Linked DNA regions of Homo sapiens. The protein of the gene in region 1 interacts with the protein of each later gene in a pairwise test. Each region holds a gene or a part of one and is shown in the gene's direction. Other genes may lie near its edges.

The links. Proteins that work in one complex are often made in the same cells at the same time.
Region 2: the proteins of FAM124B (region 1) and BIRC7 interact in binary tests that used the Homo sapiens proteins (3 or more experiments, as listed by UniProt).
Region 3: the proteins of FAM124B (region 1) and SP7 interact in binary tests that used the Homo sapiens proteins (3 or more experiments, as listed by UniProt).

The regions. Positions count from the first base shown.
Region 1 is NC_000002.12:224,399,094-224,406,344, reverse strand, and holds the start of FAM124B (protein FAM124B), read left to right. Parts: upstream 1-4,237; 5' UTR 4,238-4,576; coding exon 4,577-5,308; intron 5,309-5,839; coding exon of another isoform or gene 5,840-5,926; exon of another isoform or gene 5,927-5,968; intron 5,969-7,251.
Region 2 is NC_000020.11:63,231,662-63,238,921, forward strand, and holds the start of BIRC7 (baculoviral IAP repeat-containing protein 7), read left to right. Parts: upstream 1-4,243; 5' UTR 4,244-4,435; coding exon 4,436-4,784; exon of another isoform or gene 4,785-6,241; coding exon 6,242-6,341; intron 6,342-6,734; coding exon 6,735-6,816; intron 6,817-6,907; coding exon 6,908-6,953; intron 6,954-7,117; exon of another isoform or gene 7,118-7,181; intron 7,182-7,260.
Region 3 is NC_000012.12:53,333,338-53,341,023, reverse strand, and holds the start of SP7 (transcription factor Sp7), read left to right. Parts: upstream 1-4,669; 5' UTR 4,670-4,878; intron 4,879-5,247; exon of another isoform or gene 5,248-5,330; 5' UTR 5,331-5,377; coding exon 5,378-5,398; intron 5,399-7,686. UniProt on the Homo sapiens protein: Transcriptional activator essential for osteoblast differentiation. Binds to SP1 and EKLF consensus sequences and to other G/C-rich sequences.

The DNA.
Region 1 (7,251 bases):
CAAGTAGTGCCCCAGGTTCTAGAATGCCTCGCCCCTGGTTAGCAAGTGAGTATCACACAAAGAACCAGAGTTAAGGTTGTTTGGGAACGAGGAAAACAGAGGCTTGAATGGCTCTGAGGTTCGCTTGGTGACAGCTGCTTCTTTGAGTTTGCCTAATTGAGAAGGGGAAATGAGTCACAAATGTTAGCCTGAAACACTAAATGATGCTGTCTGCCCAGCCAAAGCCATGTTCTGAAGTCCTCATAACACACTCCACTCTCCATTTTGCCCTGGGTGCCACTTAAACATTGCTTGTCTCTTAAACTGGGTACTCCTGGAATCCTATCCTCTTCCTTCTTCTGTCCTTGTTGTGTCTTCTCTTTCTGGGTAGTCACATCCTTTCCCATGGCTGCCTGAAGACCAGCAGTTCCCCAATTCCTATTCTCTGGTTTACTGTTCCCTTCAAAGCTGTAGTGAACAGGCCACTGGACATCTCAACTCTGGCCATCCCACGGGCATCCATGCACAACACAACCACCCTGCCCTCCTCATCCTCACTCCTAACTGCCCTCCTTTCCAGTATTCCTTATCTGGTGACTGACAGCTTCACCCAAACATCTGCAAGTACCACCCTGGAATGCCTCCTGGACTAGCCACCACGGTTTTCTGCCTGCATCCAACCAGCCAACAAACCTGTCCTTTGACTGCATATCTTGCTGTGTCCGTGGCTTCCTCAAAGCATCACTTCCCTTTTCATACTGACTTTTAGGTGGTTCTGGTCAGATTCAAATAAAGTGTTCTGCAAGGCCCTTCCTGATCAGGCCCCTGGCTTCCTTCCACCCTCCTCTTCATTGAACCTCCACTCCAGCCACCTTGAACTGCTTGCAGTTGCACCAGTGTGTGACAGTCCTGGCCCCCTCGTCTAACTCAGTGTCTCCCCATGGGGTCTCCATACATCCTGCAGCACCCTTTATCATGGCACTGACTGCATCATTTAGGGTGCCCCTCCAAAGTGGGGGATGGTGACGATTCTATCTTCTGCTCCTGGTGCAACGCCTGGCTCTTGACATGTGAGATAAACATATTTTATAAATTAAAGATGGAAAGGAACTTTTTCTCAGAGTTTTCCTGGGTTGGGGGTGGGTGGGAATCTCGAGGTTATAATGCATCCCATTGTATTTTGTAGAAAGGACAAATCCCCGAGGATTTTCATGGGTTCCAATGGAGCCTCGGATTTTCTAGGTTTGCTTGAGCGACTCATCACCAGCCTCTCCATTTGCTGTGAGGAGTGGACCAACCATCTGCCATCCAGGAGCTGATGACTGCAGAAACCTGGGCATCATTGCCTGCCAAGTTTAAGAAAAATAAGATAGAGAATTGGAGTGACAGCTGTCCGGGTGCTGAGAGTCAAAGCTGATGATTTCCCTTAGTATTTTTGTCTGTGCCTTCAACAGAAGCACCATGCTAAAACACTGTTGTGCTGCACAGCTGAGAATCTGGCATTTGTTGTGGGTGGAAGGCAGTGACCAAAGGTGGAGGCAGTTTGGGGAAGGTCAGTCAGTATTTCACGTTGTTCCTGGGGAAATAATCACAGAGACAGCCAGTCAGAAATGAGGCTGGTCCCCCTCTTCCCTGGCCTCCTGCCCCTTGGATTTGTTGGCACTTTGGCTGCCAACAGATTAATGAAATCTTTTCAATCCTGAAAGAAATGACAACCTCATCAGGAAAAAAGTGTATTTTCAGCATTAGATGGAAGATAATATCAAGAAACAAAATCTTTTCCTATGTAAGAGCTTTAATACTTACCTTGTGCAAAATGTTGTGAGTTAATATCGTGGTTTCAGGGGAACAATTTTTCTCCTCAAATCTTTAGAGTTATTTCCAGAATTTCAAAGCCTATTTCAAAAACTATAGTTTTGTCTAAAGTACAATCAGCTCTGTGAATGGAAGGGTTGCGGAAGGGAGAGTGTTCACACTGAGAGATGAGATAGTTATCTGCTTCCAATGCCAATGCATAACATGAATGCTGTCGAGTTTTTTTTAAAAAAGCTTGAGATTTGTAATGCCAAAAAAAAAAACCTCTAATGATTTTTTTAAAAGTTGAAACAAGATGAATTTAATTACTGAGCTGCTCACAATAACTAGGAAACAATTCCTCTGTTATAAATTGTATTTATGTATTTTTCCCATGCAAAAAGTACAGGAATTATGAAACACAAATGATTAGAATTGTACGTTAGATTTACATAGTGAATCTGAATAGAAATAACTCCTTTTCTTGGATAATAATATTTTACTTTAAATTAGGTTGTTATACTATTAAAGGAATCCAGATATATAAAGTTGTTATATTTTTCATCACAAAAGTATTTTTTAATGTAAAAAATTGTCACACTGTGTTTCATTATAAGGATTCATAAATTTGCCTCTTTTATTTTAATTTTTTACAGCTCTTTTTGAAGTACATTTTTTTTCTTTGAGACAGGGTCTTGCTCTGTTGTCCAGGCTGGAGTGCAGTGGCATGAATTTAGGTCAGCACAGCCTGGAACTCCTGGGCTCAAGCGATTGTCCTGCTTTGGCCTCCCAAAGTGTTGAAATTACAGTTGTGAGCCACTTCGCCTGGTCCAATTGCCTCTTTTAAAAAGAATTGTGTTTAGAAAAAGTGCTTGTTCATACCTGTTGAGGAGCACAGCTATCAGGAGAGCAAATGATTTTTTAAAAATATTTATTTATTTATTTATTTTTATTATTTTTTATTTTCTGAGACGGAGTCTTGCTCTATCACCCAGGCTGGAGTGCAGTAGTGCGATCTGCAACCTCCACTTGCTGGATTCAAGTGATTCTTGTGCCTCAGCCTCCTGAGTAGCTGGGATTACAGGCATGCTCCACTTTGCCCGGCTAATTTTTGTGTTTTTAGTACAGACGGGGTTTTGCCATGTTGCCTAGGCTGGTCTCGAACTCCTGACCTCAGGTGATCCACCCGCCTCGGCCTCCCAAAGTACTAGGATCAAGGCGTGACGACTATGCGTGGCCACAAATAATTTTTAAATCAATATTTAGAACACATTTAGGGTGAGTGTTTAGAGCTTGACAACTTTCTCATTGAAGATTATTCCGTTTAAGATTCAACAGCTCAAGAGTCTGCAAATCTAGATCCTTAACCAGAACTTGCTTTTATATCTTTTCCTTACAAGAAGAATACCCAGGCTGGGACTTCAAGGCCCCAGAGAGGCAGTGCAGCAAGTTCCTGGGTTCAAATCATCCTTCAGCTACTTCTTAGCTGTGAGACCTTGGGCAAGTTACCTAGCCTTTCTATGCCCCAGTTTCTTCATCTGTAATTTGGGGCTAGTAATCTCTTCTTCATAGGTTTGTTGCAAGATTAAATTAATTTACATTAAGGGCCAGGTGTGGTGACTCATGCCTGTAATCCCAGCACTTTGGGAGGCCAATGCGGGCAGATCACCTGAGGTCAGGAGTTCGAGACCAGTCTGGCCAACATGGCAAAACCCAGTCTCTACTAAAAATACAAAAAAATTAGCTGGGCGTGTTGGCGCACTTATAATCCCAGGTACTGGGGAGGCTGAGGCAGGGGAATCTCTTGAACCTGGGAGGTGGAAGTTGCAGTGAGCCAAGATCACGCCACTGCACTCCAGCCTGGGCGACAGAGCAAGACTCCATCTCCAAAACAAAACAAAACTAATTACTTTAAGAATTAGAACAGTTTATGACTGGTACATAGTAGATCCTCATTAGACACTAAAAATTATAATTACAATTGTTAATTATAATTATTTATTATTATAATTATATGAGCAATTATAGGAAAGCTCTCACTCTTTCTAAAGAATTTGCGTGAATAAAGGAAGACTAATTTTCTCAATGTCTTTTTAGTACACTCAGAATTTTCGGTACAGCAAATAATTTTCAGTGAAGTCAAAATTATTTAGATAAAGTCTTCTCTTCGTGCCCTAGCAGAAAATGTTCAGAAACAAAATGAAATAAAGAGACAAAGGAAAAAAAAAACTGGCAAAGGGTCAGGTTTTGAGAATTGTTTTCAAGAAGTCATTGTATTCAGATTGGTGGAGCAGGCTACTGTAAACCGTAAGTAGGAAATGAGAACCCGTTGTAAGTTGATAAAATGGATGTCTTTTCAACTAAACAGATTGCTATCAGCCTAACAGAGCCAACTCATGTTCCTTTTCGGCCGGTCATTTCCTGTACTAAGTGTCTATAAGAGCCGCCCATTTGGGTGTTTCTCAGGATTATAGGTTTTTAGGTCACGCAGAAACCCTGGGGAACGCCTGAAAAGGCTAAACACAAGCAGTTACATTATGCACAAGCTGGATGACGTGACCCCGCTGCTGCTGTGTGGAGAGGGAGGCTGCTGAACCCGAGCTGGTGTGAGCTTCTCTTGCCGTAAGTCCACGGGTGGCCAGGAGCACGTGTTAGTCTGGTTAAGAGCTCTGCTCAGAAGTAGCCGCTGCAGCTGAAGGTTTTCAGGCGGGCTGAAGGCTGGGCCGCTTCTTCATTCATTTCAGAAACTTGAACAGTGGGCCTTCTACACACGCTGTCTTTGTCAGCCTCAGGCAGTTCCTCCATGGATGAGACACAGGGGCCTCTGGCCATGACTGTCCATCTTCTTGCCAACTCTGGGCACGGCTCCCTTCTGCAGAGGACTCTGGACCAGCTCCTGGATTGCATTTGCCCAGAGGTCCGGCTCTTTCAGGTGTCTGAACGGGCCAGTCCTGTGAAATACTGTGAAAAGTCCCATTCCAAGCGGTCCCGGTTTCCAGGGATGTCCGTGTTGCTCTTCCTGCACGAAAGCCCGGGAGAGGATAGGCTATTTCGCGTCCTGGACTCTCTCCAGCATTCGCCATGGCAGTGCTACCCCACCCAGGACACTCGGGGAAGGCTGTGTCCCTACTTTTTTGCCAATCAGGAGTTCTACAGCCTGGACAGTCAGCTGCCCATCTGGGGGGTGAGGCAGGTGCACTGTGGCTCCGAGATCCTGAGGGTGACGCTGTACTGCAGTTTTGATAACTATGAAGACGCCATCAGACTCTACGAGATGATCCTGCAGAGAGAAGCGACCTTGCAAAAGAGCAATTTTTGTTTCTTCGTGCTCTATGCCTCCAAGAGCTTTGCTCTGCAGCTCTCCCTGAAGCAGCTGCCCCCGGGAATGTCAGTGGACCCCAAAGAGTCTTCGGTGCTGCAGTTTAAGGTTCAAGAGATCGGCCAGTTAGTGCCTCTGCTACCCAATCCATGCATGCCTATCAGCAGCACCAGGTGGCAGACTCAGGACTACGATGGCAACAAGATTCTGCTTCAGGTATTTCTGTTTTGTCTCAGATCTTGTAGAGGCTCATGGAGCTGTGTAATTTTACATCGGAATGGGCCTAAGCTAGTGGTTCTCAGACTTGGTTGCATATTAGCGTCCCTTAGGGTCTTTCATAAATTCCCACCCCAGGGCAGTTTGATCCGAATCTCTGGGAACATCCAGGCCTAGGTAACTTTTTTACAGCTTCTTGGATGACTGTAATCTGTAACAGGGTTGAGAATCACTGATCTCATAAAATCTCATCTGACAGATAAGAAAGTTCAGATTCCATGAATTTGCAGCTGACACAAGTACTTTATAGTAGAATCAGACAGGATTCTACTATAAAGATCAGAATCCTATTAAAGAATCGGCCTCCTTTCTCAGGCTTGCCGTTTAAATGCCCATCAACTATACCCCTATCCTTTGTTTACTCTTTGGGCTCAGGAATGTCACAAGCTCTTCTAATCTGACTTAAGGAAGTTGAAGTCATACTTATGTTTAGATATGGTTTTTTTAATTTTTAATTTTTTTATTTTTTAGAGATGGGAGTCTTCCTCTGTTGCCCAGACTCGAGTGCGGTGGTGCCATCATAGCTCCCTGAGGTCTTCACCTTCTGGGTTCAAGTGATCCTCCTGCCTTAGCCTCCTGATTAGCTGGGACTACAGGCACGTGCCGCCATGTCTGGCTATTTTATTTTATTTCTAGAGACGGGGTCTCACTATGTTGGCCGAGCTTGTTTAGGGATGTTAAGTTTGCAGTACTATTGACTTAATTTTTATTCTTTATTATTATACTTTAAGTTCTGGGGTACATGTGCACAAAGTGCAGGTTTGTTACACAGGTATACATGTGCCATATTGGTTTGTTGCACCCATCAACTCGTATTGACTTAATTTTTAAGCATCTTGCATCACTGTCAAATTTTACCACATACCAAGTTAGATAGAATGCTTTCTTAAAAAAACTTGAAATTAAAGCCTTCCTTTGTAACCATCCTCGAAAACCTAACATAGCATGTGTGTATTTAGTCATGATAGCTGCCGTGCATTGCCTTTCCATGGTATGTGAGCCTGGGCACTTAGTAGCTGTATGACTGTGGGCCTCAGTTTCTTCATTAGCACAATAAAGGCACCCGAGAATTAGCATCTTCCTCTCTCATACTTACTTACAGGAAATGACCTGACACTTATAAAGTACATAATTAAGATAGTGCCAAGAACTCAATTTTAGCTATTATTGTTCATATTATGCCCTATACTAAGGATTCTCTTAAATTGATAATTTTATTTAATACTTATAACAACCTATGAAGTTACTATTTTTCCCATTTTGGAGATAAGAAAACTGAGCTTTCCAGGGGGTCAGTTATTTGCCCAAGATAGGAAGTATCTATCTACCCTCAAAGTTCATGTGGTCAGCCGCTGCAGTCCAGTGTATGTGTGTAAATGTGCAAGCAGGGGGATGAATGTCATGTTCACAGCAAAATATCCTGTGGCTTCTGTCCTTAAGAAATGGTCAGAAGCTCCTTAAGGCCTATTGAATAAAGTAATAAGAGACTACAAGATGAGATGTCTTTCCATTTGGTTAATTTTGTTGTCATCACTTTGACTTGTTAATAAAACATGAATCATATTCCATATTAAATGATTTCTAAATTATTCACCTTCTTGCTCACATAAGGTAGACAGGCACTGTTTCTGTTAGTTGCCTATTATAAAACCCCATAATTTCCAAGGCATCTAAAATTTCTTTCAGTTTTAGCGACTCTCTAGTACTTAAAATCAACCTCATGGTCAAACAAAAATGTAATGTGTGTGTGCAGCAAGGGACATGATTTTAATCATTCCTGTCTTTAAGGCTGACTGACATTTTTGCTATGGAACCACAGTTTAAACAACTTAGTTACTTTGGAAAGTTGAGTCACATTTGGGGAGTGTAGAAGAGTTTTTTGG
Region 2 (7,260 bases), on another chromosome or scaffold:
ATCAACAAAAGCCTCATGACTGTAATATCAGGGATCGCATCTGTGGGAACACAGTGGTCACGACCGAGGGCAACGTGGTGATGTTTAGCAGCGAGAAAGCGGGCCACCGTGCAGTCTGATTAATGCTTAATTATAATAATATTTCTGTCCAGAACCCGACATGCAATTCTTGTCAGCCCTGTGGAGACAGTTTTGTTACAGGAAAGGGGTCCGGATCCAGACCCCAAGAGAGGGTTCTTGGATCTCCTGCAAGAAAGAATTCAGGGTGAGTCTGTAAAGTGAAAGCAAGTTTCTTAGGAAAGTAAAGGAATCAAGAATGGCTACTCCATAGTCAGAGTAGCCCTGAGGGCTGCTGGTTGCCCACTTTTTTGGTTATCTCTTGATGATACGCTAAACAAGGGGTGGATTATTCATGCCTCCCCTTTTTAGACCATCTAGGGTAACTTCCTGATGTTGCTATGGCATTTGTAAACTGTCCTGGCGCTGGTGGAGAGTGAGGACGTCCAGAGGTCACTCTCGTGACCATCCTGGTTTTGGTGGGTTTTTGTCGGCTTCTTTGCCACGACCTGTTTTATCAGCAAGGTCTTTGTGACCTGTATTTTGTGCTGACCTCCTGTCTCATCCTGCGACTTAAAATGCCTTCACCGTCTGGGAATGCAGCCCGGTGGGTCTCAGCCTCATTTTACCATTTTACCCAGCTCCCGTTCAACACGGAGCTGCTCTGGTTCACATGCCTCTGACGGTTTCACCTTCTGCTCAGAGCATTTGGACCTCCACAGGCTCTGACTCAGCCCTCTTATCCCAGGCTGATCCCATCCCCGTCTAAAAATCCCACTAACTTCCTTCTGAGAAAGTTGAGAGTCTTGTTTATACTAAAGTGTTAATGACTCACAAAGCATTCCCAGAGGAAAAGTTAACAGGAGGAGACTGTGAGGCTCTGGCGGTGAAAGGTCAGGCATGAGCCCTGGGGGAGATGTTTTCTTCTCTGGAGGCCCCTCCTGAGACCCCCCATCTCTGCACAGGAAGACGAACCCTGTGCCCAGCGGGTCCACCTATCTGCCCACGTGGCCCCAACCCCAGGCTTCATGGAGTAGAGCAGGGCTCATTCGTGTGGCACCCACACGCAGTTTCAGGGCGTGGACTTTCCCGGATGGCTGGGTGGCTTTGGGGGAGGTGTGAGCTGTTGGTGGAGAATGCTGAGCCCGGCCCTGACGACGGTCCTCTTTTCCTGCCTTAATAGGCTAGTCCCCATCACTGTGGGGGGCAATTTGGGGATATTCTCCTCCAACTCCTGCTGGTTCTGAATCTTGCAGGGAGCTGCAAATCCCAGTCACTGTGGGGTCTTGGGGCTTCTAGGAGTCCCTGCTGGGCCCAGGGCTTTTTTCTCACTGACCTGGAGGCCTCTCCCCACGGCTCCCCATCTGACATCTTCTCAGCTGGGAGACTTAATTGTAAAGACTCACAGGGATCCAGGGGGCATCACAGGGGGCCCTCCTAGGTACTGACAGATGTTTATTCATTTTGAAAAATGGGCAAATAGCAAATAAAGATGTTTAGGGTATGTTTGGAAGAAAACAGCAAAATAGTAACAGCAGTGCTTACCGCTCAGCGGGGAGAAGGCATATGGGTTTTCCCAGCTTTTATTTGGAAATCATTGTAGATGCAGAATTGCAAAGAAGCCTAGAGGTGTCCATGCACCCTGCCCCACCCCACGGTATCATCCTGCAAAGCTGCAGGGCAACTGCCAAATCCAGACACACACGCCCCGGTGCCCACAGGGATGGCTCAGACATCGAACTTCGCTTTCTTTATACTCCCAGTATTCCCGACACTTCTGGAATAGGCACATGACCATTATTTTTAGCTCCTTATTTCTTTTTATTTAATTAAATAAGCAACATATGGATAGTCCTTGTTTTGAGAATTTTGGGCCGGCCGCACACGGCAAAGCAGCTGAGCGCCCCTCAGCAGCTCCCTGCACAGTTACGCACTGGGATGGCACTGCGATGCGTGTGGAGAAACACCTGCTGGGTTTGGAGGTGCACAGGACCTCGGGGCGATCCCACCGGAGGAGCGGGGCTCGGCTTATGGCCCAGCTAACCCCAACTCCCCAGTGGGCCCCAGGGCCTTTCCTTCCACTTCCAGGAGTGACACCAACCTTGTCTCCTCTCCGAGCCCCAAGCAGTGGGAAGAGAGGGTCCCATAACAGGCCATGGCAGCGGCCTCTGCTGCCTGCCCACCTCAGAGGGTCCCCAGCTTGAGAGTTCAGAGCAAACCTGGGTGCTGCATGTGTCTCTCCCCTGGAAGAAGCAGGCTGGAGACAGTGGCCCCTCTTCCCACCTCCCCGGTGCACTGCGGGCAGACTGGGAACCAGGCAGCAAATCCACCCAGCTTGAGGCCCACGTCCTCCTGAAAGGGCCCCAGGCCCACACCCGGGGTTTTGCTGAAGTGACCAAAGGTAACCGCTGTGCTGAGGGGGCGGTGGAGGACAGGGAGGGGGCGAAGGCGAGGTGGGCGCTGGAGGACGTGGGGGTGAAGGCGAGGTGGTCGCTGGAGGACAGGGAGGGGGCGAAGGTGTGGTGGACGCTGGAGGACAGAGAGGGGGCAAAGGCGAGGTGGGCGCTGGAGGACAGAGAGGGGGTGAAGGCGAGGTGGGCACTGGAGGACAGAGAGGGGGCGAAGGCGAGGTGGGCACTGGAGGACAGAGAGGGGGCGAAGGCGAGGTACCCTGAGATCATCCCAGAAAACACACTGGGAAGTTCTACCTTGTGTCTAGCCTAACTCCTTTGCTGGCCCTCAGGCCCTTTCCCGACAGCCCTCCCCTCCTATGCCCCTGAGCTTCCTGCTGCCTCTCCCTCTGCGCCCTGCAGCCCTGGCTTCTGGGCTCTATCCTCAGCAGGGCCTGCAGACACCCCAGAGGCCTTAAGAGCCTGGGAGGGGTTTCCAGCCACACCCTTCACTTTGATTTCTGCAGGAAACCAGGTGGCTCTGGGCCTTGCATAGGAAAGGGTTGGGGGTCTCGCTGGGGCCTGGCAACACTGGCCTGAGTATGACCAGAACAGTCACCAGAGGCCTCCTGGGAGGGCGGGTGCAGCCCCAGCCCCCGCCGTGAGTGGGGGTCGGGGGGCAGGTGTGAAAGTGTGGTGGGCAGCAGCTGGGTCTATGCGGCTCAGCAGTGGGAAGAGAACGGGCCAGGCTTCCAGGTGAGCTCAGGGACGGTTTTCACTGCAGCTAACCCTCTCCTGCCCACCTGCGCTCCCCGTGGCAACCAGCGGCCCTGCAGCGTGCGACTCCTCTTTATTCTTCCAAACTCTGTGAGCCTGCACGCTCCCATCCAGGACGGAACAGCAGGGGAGAGTGGCTGAAGGATGACAGGGGGCTTTTAGGGCCAGCCGGGTGGATGAGCTGGGTTTGCTGGGGTTGAGGGCTCAGTCGGGGGTTGGGGGGTGTCGAAGTCTGGGCCCCATCCAGCTGTCCTTTTTGTCCCGCCCAGGTGTCCCTGGGGTTCCTGTTCTGCCCCTGGCTTCTCTGGGGTTAAGTCCTCCTCCCTGTTCCCTCACTGTGGGGTTTGGCAGTGTGGCACAGTGTGGAGCTTGGACCGGCAGCCAGGGTCACAGCAGACCTCAGGAACTCCGATTCCAGTGCCAACACTGAGTACTCCTCTTTTGGGGGCATCAGAGCCTCTCCCTTGGCTACCTGGGGAGGCTGGTATGGAGGGAGGTGGAGGGAGATGGGGGAAGGGGGAGCGGGAGGTGAGGGCAGCTCGGGCCCTTCTTTTTGCTCTGATCTTCCTGGCCTGAGGACAAGAGCTGCTCCCAGACCTGCAGAGGCCCCTTGGGGCAGAGGGATGTTTCAGAGAACAGCCGGGTGACCTGCCTCCCTGCTCTGCGTGACGCAGCCCTAGGCCCCTGTGAGGCTAGAGTCACCCCCGCAAGGTGGGAGGTCACGGCCCCTGCCTGCACAGGCAGCACAGCTCACATGTCCTTCCTTGAGCCTTCTCTGCTTCCGGAGGCTGCCCTGGGCGCCTGACCTTGGAGCCATCATCTCCAGCTCCCCAACCCCTCCCCCACAGCCCTGGGGCAGACACCAGCCTGGGGAGGGGTCTCCATGCTCAGTTCCTTCCCGTCTTGTTCAGAGAGACGTGGCCTGCCCACGTGCAGTCAGCGGCATCCGCAACCCTGCCAGGGGCCCCGTGACACGCCCCCGCTGCACAGAGCATGTGACCCCAGAGGCCACCCTGGCCACTTCCAGAAAGCTGTGGGCCCTGGGATACTCCCCTCCCAGGGTGTCTGGTGGCAGGCCTGTGCCTATCCCTGCTGTCCCCAGGGTGGGCCCCGGGGGTCAGGAGCTCCAGAAGGGCCAGCTGGGCATATTCTGAGATTGGCCATCAGCCCCCATTTCTGCTGCAAACCTGGTCAGAGCCAGTGTTCCCTCCATGGGACCTAAAGACAGTGCCAAGTGCCTGCACCGTGGACCACAGCCGAGCCACTGGGCAGCCGGTGATGGTCCCACGCAGGAGCGCTGTGGACCCCGCTCTCTGGGCAGCCCTGTCCTAGGCCTGGACACCTGCAGAGCCTGGGACCACGTGGATGGGCAGATCCTGGGCCAGCTGCGGCCCCTGACAGAGGAGGAAGAGGAGGAGGGCGCCGGGGCCACCTTGTCCAGGGGGCCTGCCTTCCCCGGCATGGGCTCTGAGGAGTTGCGTCTGGCCTCCTTCTATGACTGGCCGCTGACTGCTGAGGTGCCACCCGAGCTGCTGGCTGCTGCCGGCTTCTTCCACACAGGTCAGTCCCGGGCGGGGGGGCCTTCCTGCCGTGGGCCTGGGCACGATTCTGGACCCTTCCAGCCCAGGGCTCTGCCTCCTCCGTAGCATCCATCCCCCAACAGGAAGGGTCTGGCCTGATGACGGAGCAGTGGTCCTGCAAGCCCCTCCAGTGCCCATGGGCTCGTGCCTGACACCCTCCCCCGGAGTCTCTGCTGGCTGAGTGTTTCAGACCGTGGGATGTGAGGAGGGGCTGCCTCTGGCCACAGTCTGAGGGTCTCAGCTGTGGAGGCCGCCAGCTTGGTGCACAAGTACCCCTTTGTGATAGAAGTGGGTGGGGCTGACATTGCCTGGGGCCCTCACCTTCCCCGCTGCTGTTCTGCACAGGGAGAGGAGATGTTTAAAGAACAGGATCAGGGTGACCAAGGCAGGCAGTGGTCAGCCAGAAGGTCCTGGATGCTCAGCCTGTGGGGAATTTCTCCAGGCCCCAACCTGCAGCTACTGTCTGGTCTTCCCCAACTGAATCAAGTCCCCGGAGTACCTATCCTAGTCTTGGCCCGGGCCTGCTCCTCTGCCCTACAGCTGCAGACCATGTGGTCAGACCTGAGTTCAGGTCCCAGCTCTGCCACTTCCTGGCTGAAGGACAGGGCAGCAGGGCCCACCGAGGGCTTTACAAATACTGGCACAGCCATGGTCATTGTCAGCAGTGGGCTCTGGCGGGGCACCATCCTGGTAAGGCTGGACCAACTTAAGACAGCTGGTCGGGGGGACAGTGGCTGGGACAGTCAGAAGCCGTGGCGTGAAGGGGCAGGCCCAGCTCACCCACCTCCCTGGAAGTCCAAGGCTCAGGAGGCAAAGGCCAGGCAAGAGGCATGGCAGGTGCAGAGCCGGGGTCTTTGGGGCTGGTAGAGGTCCAGTGCCCGATGCAGCCCAAACCTGTGATGTCAGTGGCAGGTGACGTATCGCATGGATGCCGATGAGGGGACGGGGTCGCCAGGAGGTAGAGAGATGACGGGTCCCCCACCCCCAAAGGGAGGCATGAGTTCCTAAAAGCAAGCCTGGCCCCAGACTGGCCTTCTAGGGCAGCCTCCCTTCTTCTTCTCACTGGGAATCCATCTTGGGGAAGCAGAGACCTGGGGAGGGGCCCTTCTGGCTCCTGAAGCCCCAGGGCTATAGATGTACCAAGCCCTGGGGGGCCCCCACTGCTCACTCTGGGAACAATGCAAATGCCAGCTCAGTCCTTTCCTGAACATTCTCGCCCATCCTGGCCGGCACCCCAGTCACCCTTGTCCCCTTTTCACCTTTGATGCTAATGAGGTACAAGTGACATCCCCCACCAAGCCCCCTGCCCACCCCCTCCTCCTTCTTGCCACCTGGGAGCTCCCCTCCAGCTGAAGCTCTCATAGCCTTGGAAGGACACACCGGGGGCCCGGGGACTGGGTGGGACTTGGCTGGGGCCAGCATCTCTCCGCACCCCAGGCCATCAGGACAAGGTGAGGTGCTTCTTCTGCTATGGGGGCCTGCAGAGCTGGAAGCGCGGGGACGACCCCTGGACGGAGCATGCCAAGTGGTTCCCCAGGTACCGGCTGCCCCTGCGGGGCCCCGGGTCTGATCATGGGTAGGGGGTGGGCCCCCAACGGCTCTGTCGACCCAACACCAGGCCTGCTTTGCCTCCCTGGCCCCACAGGGCACTGGGGAGGCCCTTCTGTGGGAGGTGCTTCTGGCCGGCAGGTACCCACTTTTCCTGTGAGGGCCCCTTTTCGGAAGGGCTGCTGGGGGCAGAAATGCCTCTCCCATGGGACTACCCTGAAGCCCCATGGAGGCGTCTCCACAGCAGCCCTCCTCGCCCATGCCCACGGGCACTGCAGGGTGGCGGGAGGAGGGGGCCCAACCCTGACCCCCGGGGATCCAAGGGCTTGAAGCAGACAGTGGGGGCCCTGAACCCCAACCTACATCTCTGGGGCATCTGCAGCTGTCAGTTCCTGCTCCGGTCAAAAGGAAGAGACTTTGTCCACAGTGTGCAGGAGACTCACTCCCAGCTGCTGGGCTCCTGGGTGAGCGCCACCTCTCCTCGGGGCTCCGGGTGGCAGTGGGGTCCTGCCCCTCCTATTTCCCCAAGGCCTGATGGTCTCTGGCTCCTTCCAGGACCCGTGGGAAGAACCGGAAGACGCAGCCCCTGTGGCCCCCTCCGGTGAGAGCTGACACCACCCCTGCTGACTCCTTGTGCGCCTGCAGCCTGTGCTTGGCCAAGGCCACTGGGTGTCCCCACCCTCCCAGACAGCAGGGAGAGTGACGGGCACGTGACAGGGTGTGACGCTGCTGCCTGGGTTGGCTTCAGGGGGCTGTGCCATGTGAGGGTGGGGGCGGGGCGGCAGGGGCCTCCCCCAGTGCCAGGCCCCATTCTGCTTCTCTCCCAGCTTACCCCTTGGGCACAGCCCATTGCCTGTCGCCATACCACCCCCAACAGTGCCCAGCACACAGCATCTGCAGCTACTGCC
Region 3 (7,686 bases), on another chromosome or scaffold:
AAATTGGATCCTCTTCCCCAAGTACCCTGAGCCTAGTGTCAGAAATGCTGGGTCAAGGCACTCGGCAGTCTCTAAATCCTGAGGCCATGAATGGATGTTCCTTCAACCCAAGGAGCAAGCTTTCCTGGTCATCAGCCCCATTGCTCTTAGAGGACCCAACAGACTAGTAGCTGATCCTCAGGGTCTCTCATCTGTATGCCCACCATTTGTTGTTTCCTCTTTGTCTCTCCTGTGTCTTTCTGTTTCCCTGTCTCTGCGTGCCTTCTTCTTTCCTGTCCCCTCTATGTTCTCTGTCGCTGGAGTATCCACTGGAGACAAGGGCTGGGCTGGGTGCATGGGCGGGTAGTGGCCAGACCAGGGGCCCGGGACATGAGCGCAACTTTCCAAGCTTCTCTTCCAGGCCCCTGTGGTTGGGGAGCTCCACAGAGGGAGAGATGAGTCAGCGGGGCCGCAGAGCAGCGGGGGCCTGGGTGGGGGTAGGGATGCTGGGGTTCCCCAGGACCAGGGAGTTCGCTGGGGCCATCTGGGTCTCTGAACTCTGGTGTGTGTGTGGAGTATTGGATCAAAAGTACCTAAAGGTACACTGGAACTTCTTATACTAGTAGGAGTTGGAGGCAGCAATTTGCAGGACTGGCAGTGGCCTCCATATCACCCTTATCTCCAGATCCTTATAGGGAGAGGGGTTCCCAAATGCCCTTTAGGAGACCACAGAGATCTCCAGGGCTGTAAAGTTGTAATGGTAGCCCTGGGTATATGTATGTGACATTTGCCACATGTGTAGATACGTGTGTTGATGGGAGTCTGTGAGTCCATGTGGGGAGTATTCTAGGTGGCTGTGAGTCTGTATGCATGTATATATATACTGGTGTGTGCATTTTTATGATTGGGGGTTAGGGTGTCTTGGGGTAAGCATTATCTGTATATGTATATATCAGTGTGTGTCAATATGGATGCCTGCATAGTACAAATGTGTATGAATTATGTGTCACCTTGTGTGTGTGCAAGTATGCAGATCTGAATGTGTCTGTCATCAGGTATGTATTAGGGCATGTGTCAGTCTCTATTTCAGGGGCTCTGCTCACTATTCTCTGGTGATTCTCCCTAGGGTAGTCAAACCTTCTATAACAGCAACAATGAAGAGTTGGGAGTCCCTTTGGATGAGGCTCTTAGAGACAGCCCAGCCTAGAAAGGTGGTAGAGGGTGATGGTGTGGACGATGGAAGTAGCATCCCTTGGGAATAGGGGGTACAGGTCTCCCACTCTCCCCAGTTTTTTTTTTCTTTCTTTTTTTTTTTTTTTGAGATGGAGTTTTGTTCTTGTTGCCCAGGCTGGAGTGCAATGGCATGATCTCAGCTCACTGCAATCTCCACCTCCTGGGTTCAAGTGATTCTACTGCCTCAGCCTCCCAAGTAGCTGGGATTACAGGCACCCGTCACCACGCTCAGCTGATTTTTGTATTTTTAGTAGAGACGGGGTTTCACCATGTTGGCCAGGCTGTCTCAAACTCCTGACCTCAGGTGATCCACCCACCTTGGCCTCCCAAAGCGCTGGGATTACCGGCGTGAGCCACTGCACCCGGCCCCACTCTCCCCAGTTTTCATTCTGTTTTCACCCCACTGATCTTTCCAAAAAGATCCAAAATCATTTGGAGAACTGAGGCAGGTGCCAGATTCAACCCCCTCTAACCTACAAAGCCCACCCTGATTCTCCTAGGGGAGGGTGGGAAGGGAATGGTTCCTGTGGTTCAGCCCAGTCCTGGCATTGGGATATCAGAAAGGCATCATCCCACCCCTTCCGTCTGGGGCATCCATCCCTTGGAGCTCAGCGTCTGGGTGGCCATGGGCGGAGGCTGAGGGGCCCCCAGGGTGGTGGGGGGTGGTGGATAGAAACCAGATGCCTAGGGGGTTTATACTGGAAGGACCAGAGCCGCAGCCTCTACCCGCCCCTGCCACATGGCGCCTCTCCCTGGTCTGCCCCACCCCCTGGGAGGCTGGGCTGAGGGAGGCCTGAGAGGGTGGAGGTAGGTCCTTGGTTAGGGCTTCCAATTGCTGCCCCCAGCCCCTCAGGGCACTGGGAAGGAGACTGGGGAGCTGGACCCAGGAACACCAGAGCCTCAGCTGGGCTGCAGGACTATTTTTAAAAAGGACATGGAGAAGTCAGAACCCAGGGGTTCCTGAGGGCAGCAGCTGGGGGATTCAGGCAGCCCCTCTGCCTATCTTTGGCGCTGATCTCTGGTGGGGAAGAGGCTCTGTGTCCAGAGGGTGTCCTATGTTGACACATCGGGGCACTGGCTCACATCTTCCTGGGACTCTGCTCCTCCTTTTTATTTCTCCGAGAATAGTAGGGTTCGAATAGAGAATAGTAGGGTTTGAATACGTCTGCCCCTTCCCGGGTAGGGTTAGGGATTAAAGCCCACACGGGGAGTGAGAAGGTGACCCTTCCTTCCAACTCCTCTCCCCAGCCCTGTCTGTCCATTTATCTTTCCATCCTTCCTCCTTTTCCCCTTCAGTTTCTTCCTTTCTTCTCTCATCTAATCTGAGTCCCAACCCCCTCCTCACCTGCTATCTCTTCTTTAGAATCTAGACTTTCTCCTCCTCTGCCTCAGTTTCCTGCCTGATCTAACTGGGTCGGGCTTTTCTGCTGGTGATACAGGAATTTCTCTAAAGCTTCTCTTTCTCAACTTCTGAGTTCGGGGCCCCGGAAAGCCATCTGGCACCTCAGTCTCAGACTCCCCCCCAACAAGGGGGAGACCGCGAGGTCACAGGGACACCCCACCACGGGCACTTCCTCTCAGGCAGACGGGTGGGGTGGCCCGTGTAATCAGCGGACACAATTATGTGCTATTTATACTCCTTCCCCGCCCCCCCACCTGCCTGGCAACACAACCCTCCTCCTCCTCCTCCTCCTCCTCCTCCTCCGGACCTGGCTATGCCTCAGGCTATTTTCTCTGTCCTTCCCAAGCCATTGTCTCCCCATCTTTGTTCCTCTGGGCCTGTTTCTTTATCTTTTTAGTTTCTTTCCTGCTCTGTTTTTTGTTGTTGTTGTTGTTGTTGTTTAAAGCCACACATCTGGTCTTCTGTTTTCCTGTTTCCTCTCTCTTATACCTGGTGATATCTCTTCTGATTGTCTTGGACTCTTTCATTTGCTCTGTTTCTTCTTTTGCTGCTTTCTCTTTGTCTATCAGCCACCTGGTTCCCAAACCCTTCCCCTAAACCTTGGGTTCCCAGAGTTCCTTGAGGTAAATCAAATCATGGGGCTAGAATCCAGAACTCCTGGGCCCTACCCTGAAATTGGTGCCTACCTGCTGGCGAAACTGCTGTGCAACCCTCCGTGGACCTCCATCTGCTCCTGCCACCTCCCAGCTTTTTCTTTGGAGATCTGGGAGAGCAAAAGGAGCAAGGAATTGGGCACTCCGAGAAAGTGAGGGGATGGTGTTGCAGAGTGAGGAGAGTGGAAAGGATGGGGCTTTATTCCCCTGACAGGGAGAGCTGGGAGGGGGAGAAGTGTGTGTTAAGGAATAACCTGTAAAACAACCCCAGCGGGCTAAGCCCCCCTGTGGGAGAGCTGCCGGTGTCACCACTTAGCTGCCCAGTCCTCTCTCCCATAAATACCTCAGGGCCCATGGCCCAGGTTTCAGGTAATAGACTTTTTGGGTTTCCCTCCTAACCTGGCTGCCCTTCCTTCTCTTACTTCCTATTTTGTTGGGAAGTCCTTATTAAGTTCTAACTTCAGTTCTTTCTGTGGAAGAGGGAATTGATGCATGGCAATGAGAAAGGGAACCAGGAGTTCCCAGGAAAGTCAGATCACTCTGGAGAACTGTCCACCAAAGGATGGAGATTAAACCCATGGTCTCTAAGAGATGGTAACTTGGTTACCCAGGGATGGTAACTGACAAGGAATATGGAGGTTAGGGCATTTCTTTTTGGGGGAAATAATCCAAAGAGGTTAGGTGTCGGCATGAATGAGTTGACCCAATGACCTTCTACCGCCACCCTCACTCCTGCTTGTCTTAAATTTTCTCTTCATCAGAAGATCCAGGTTCTGCCCCACAAAGTGAGGTAGGCCTAGGTATCACCTCCAAACAGTGAAACTGAGGCACTGGGAGGAAGACTGAGGGACCCCCAAGCCAATACCAAGCCTTCCCCAACTCTTCAACCCTTCCTCCAGGCCTTGCTCTGGAACCAACCTCAGTGACACTAAAAGTTTAGGCAGCAGAAACCTCCACCTCAGAACCTTCCATGCCTCTTCCCACAACATACACACACACACACACACACGGGCACGTACACACACACAGGGGCACATACACACTGCTCTCCTGATCTAGAGGCAGGTGGGTGACTGGGGAAGCAAGCCTCTCCATGGTCAGCTGGGGCGGGTGTGGTGCGTGTGCCTCCAGTGCGTCACTGTGTGCATTTGTGTGTGTCCGTCTGTGTTCATTCATGATAGTGGCTGTACCCATGTGAGTGGTACTGTGTGTACGTGTGCATGCATCACCCCTGTGTTTGGCCATGAGTGTGTATGTCAGTGCGTTCCAGTCTCTCTGTGTGAGTGTCGTCCCCAACCCCCCATCCCCCCCCTGGATCTCTAATTAGTGGTTTGGGGTTTGTTCCTTTTCCCTCCTGTTCCTTCCCTCAGCAGCGGCGGGCGGCAGCAGCCTAGGCAGCAGCAGTAGCAGAAGCAGCAGCCGCCGAGCAGCAGCAAGGACTCTGGAGTCAGAGTAGGACTGTAGGACCGGAGCCTGAGTGGAACAGGAGTGGAGCTGGCCTGGGAGAGAGCGGATCCCTCCCAGCACCCTCAGGCCACCCGTTGCCTGCACTCTCCCTGCCAGACCTCCAGAGAGGAGAGACTCGGGACAGCCAGCCCCAGGTTCCCCCAGGTACATGACACTGGGGAGCTCTGGGAGGGGTGCCCACAGATGCCTATGGGACTGCTGCCGCGTGTAGGACACCGGGGTCCACCATCCCTTTAACCTCTCCCCTCAGCAGCCCCCCGAGGAAGCCCTGACAACTTGCCCATGCTGCTCTCCCCTCTTCCTGCTTCCCACCCCTTCCATGGGCGCCCCTTTTTCTCCTCTCCCTCCCTGATCCCTTCTTTGGGGAGCTCAGCAAATGGAGCAGGAAATTTGGACCCTCTGCCTCCCTCTCTCGCCCTCCTCATTGGATCTGGAGCCTTCTCCGCTGGGAAAGCTGTAATTAGAGGGTGGATCCCTACAGACAGAGAGCAGCCCCCCACCCCGGTCCCTTCTAACTTTAGATCTCTTCTCTCCCATTCTCCCATTCTCCCTCCCTCTCCCTTTTCTCTCTCTACCCCCCCCACCCCCCGGCTCAGCTCTCTCCATCTGCCTGGCTCCTTGGGACCCGTTCCCCAGCCTCAGGATGGCGTCCTCCCTGCTTGAGGTAACTGTCCCCTCTTCCCCCCAGGAAACCAGCCACAACCTTAATGGTCCTAGTCCTTGCCCACCCACCTCCTCCAACTCACATAGATAGTAGCTGTGGTGCTTGTCAATTCCAGGGGTCCTTCTGATGAGGAGAGAGGAGTGGGGTCCAAGAAAGGGGAAGCAGAGGGCAGGAGAAAAGGGAGGGAAGAATAGGGCCAGGGGTCAGAGGGCAGTGGAAAGAGGGTGAGAGGGGATTAGGTCAGAAGAAGGCATGGACCCCTACCTAAGGTCAGCTAAGCACACTGACTGTGAGGAGTGGAAAAGCGATGGAGAAAGGAGGGGGAGGGGGGCGAGGGGGAGTGAGGAGAGAGGGGTGGGAAATACATAAGCTGGCAGAAGAGATAGAAGGCAGAGAGGACTGGCTGAGTGGGCACAGAGCAGCAACTGGGTATAGCTCTTTAGGGGTCCCGTCTCCTGGGACTCGTAGCCCAGACAGGATCTTGCCTGGTTTTGTGGGGAGGGGGCTGGGCCCGTGAGCTGGTGTGTGGAGGAGAGGAGGTAGGCTATGAGAGAAAGGAGGAGGCCAGCCTGTGCCTGTGGGGGAGCTGACCAGGGGAACTGAGCCCAGGCCTGTGAGGGAACCAAGGAGGAGGGACGGGGTCTGAGGCCGCTTGCCCGGCTTACAAATATTTAGCTTTCAGCCAAAGACAAACTCAGCTCTATTTTGGGAGTGGGAGGCTCCAGGGCGGACTGGGCCACTTCCCCTCCGGGCTGGGACCCCAGCATCCCTTGCCTCTGGTGCTGGGGACAAAGGGAATTGGGGTACCACTGGGGTCAGGGTTTGGGGTCTTGAGAAATTTCTGACTCTACTCTGGCTTCTGGGGGACCCAAGGCACAGAGTTGGGAAGGCAGGGCTCACAGCCACTCAGGGCCAGATTCCTCCCTGCTTCTGGGTCTCTGACACTGTTCCTCTGTCACCATCTCTGTCCTGCTTTCTGGGTCTCTCTGCAGGAATTTAGGGCCAGAGGGCCCTCCCTGAAAGTCAGTCCCCTTCAGTAGCCTTGACTCTTCCCTATTCTTGGGTCCCACATCTCTCTTCCCAGTGCCCTAGCTCAGGCCCAGGGGTGCTGGGCCAAACAGGAAGCCAACTCACTCAACCTGTGGGAGAGGTGTGTGTTTGTGAGATGGGGCAGGAGTCTTTTAACACCTGTGTTCATTGGCCTGAGTGTAATCGTTAGGGTGCAGTCGAGGGTGCCACAGGCCCTGAGAGTGTGTGTGTGTGTGTGTGTGTGTGTGTGTGTGTGTGTGTGTGTAAGTTGGGCCATCTGAGTGCTGTGAGTCCAAGTGATAAATGGTGTGTGCACAAGGCTGTGAGATAGTGAATTTGTGGCTGAGTTTGGGGGAATAGCATGCAAGCCAACCAGATGGACACCACGTCCCTTGTCACACTCTGTATCCAGCCAGGGGTCTACCCGTAGCTGCAATGGGAGCAGACTGTCATCCTGCCACCTCCCCAACAGACTCTATTTTGAGCCATCATTGAAACACTGTGGTCTTGAGGAATAAGATGCATGGAAATCCTGGGTCCACCCAGGGCAGGGACAGTGTCAGTGGGCGTGGGCATCATGCCAGTGTTGCCAACGTGGCGCTGGTGGCTTGGGAGGGACTGGCCCAGAGGCCTGCTGGAAAGACATGGGATTGGGATAGTGCATGGCGAAAGGAGAGTGTTGTGGAAGCTAGACTTTCATGTCCCCTCACTCCTGTGAGCTGGAGATGCCTGCAACACGAAGGCACACCAGTCCCTCCTGTCCCTCGACCACTTGCACCTAGTTTTTGAGTACCTGGGCCCTCAACTTCCTCCCCACCTCCCCAGGAAGCCCTCCACCTTGTATGGGTGGGCTCTCTGGCAGTGGGAAGCAGCTGCTGCTTGATGGGGGGCTCACCTCGGCCAAGTGAGATTCAGGGGAACAGGGAAGGGGAAGAAATTGTTGGGGGCCTAGGTGGGAAAGGAGAATTGGGAAGCTGGGAAAACGAAGAAACTTGGGAGAAGGCTGAGAAAGTTGAGAACTGGAAAATGGGACCTTGACTGCTCCAAACCTAAGGCCAGTCAGCCCTGAGATGTCTAGTGAGCACTTCCGCTGGGAGGCCAGGCTGGGCACTGCACCATGAGCTCCCTGGGAGGAGGGGATCCCCCTCCCCTGCTCCACATCTGGGTGGGAGAGTTGGGACAGCTCCTATCTTGTTCTTTTTCCAAACACTCCCACTTCAATACTTTAATTCTGTTTGTCTTGTTTTGTTTTGTTTTAA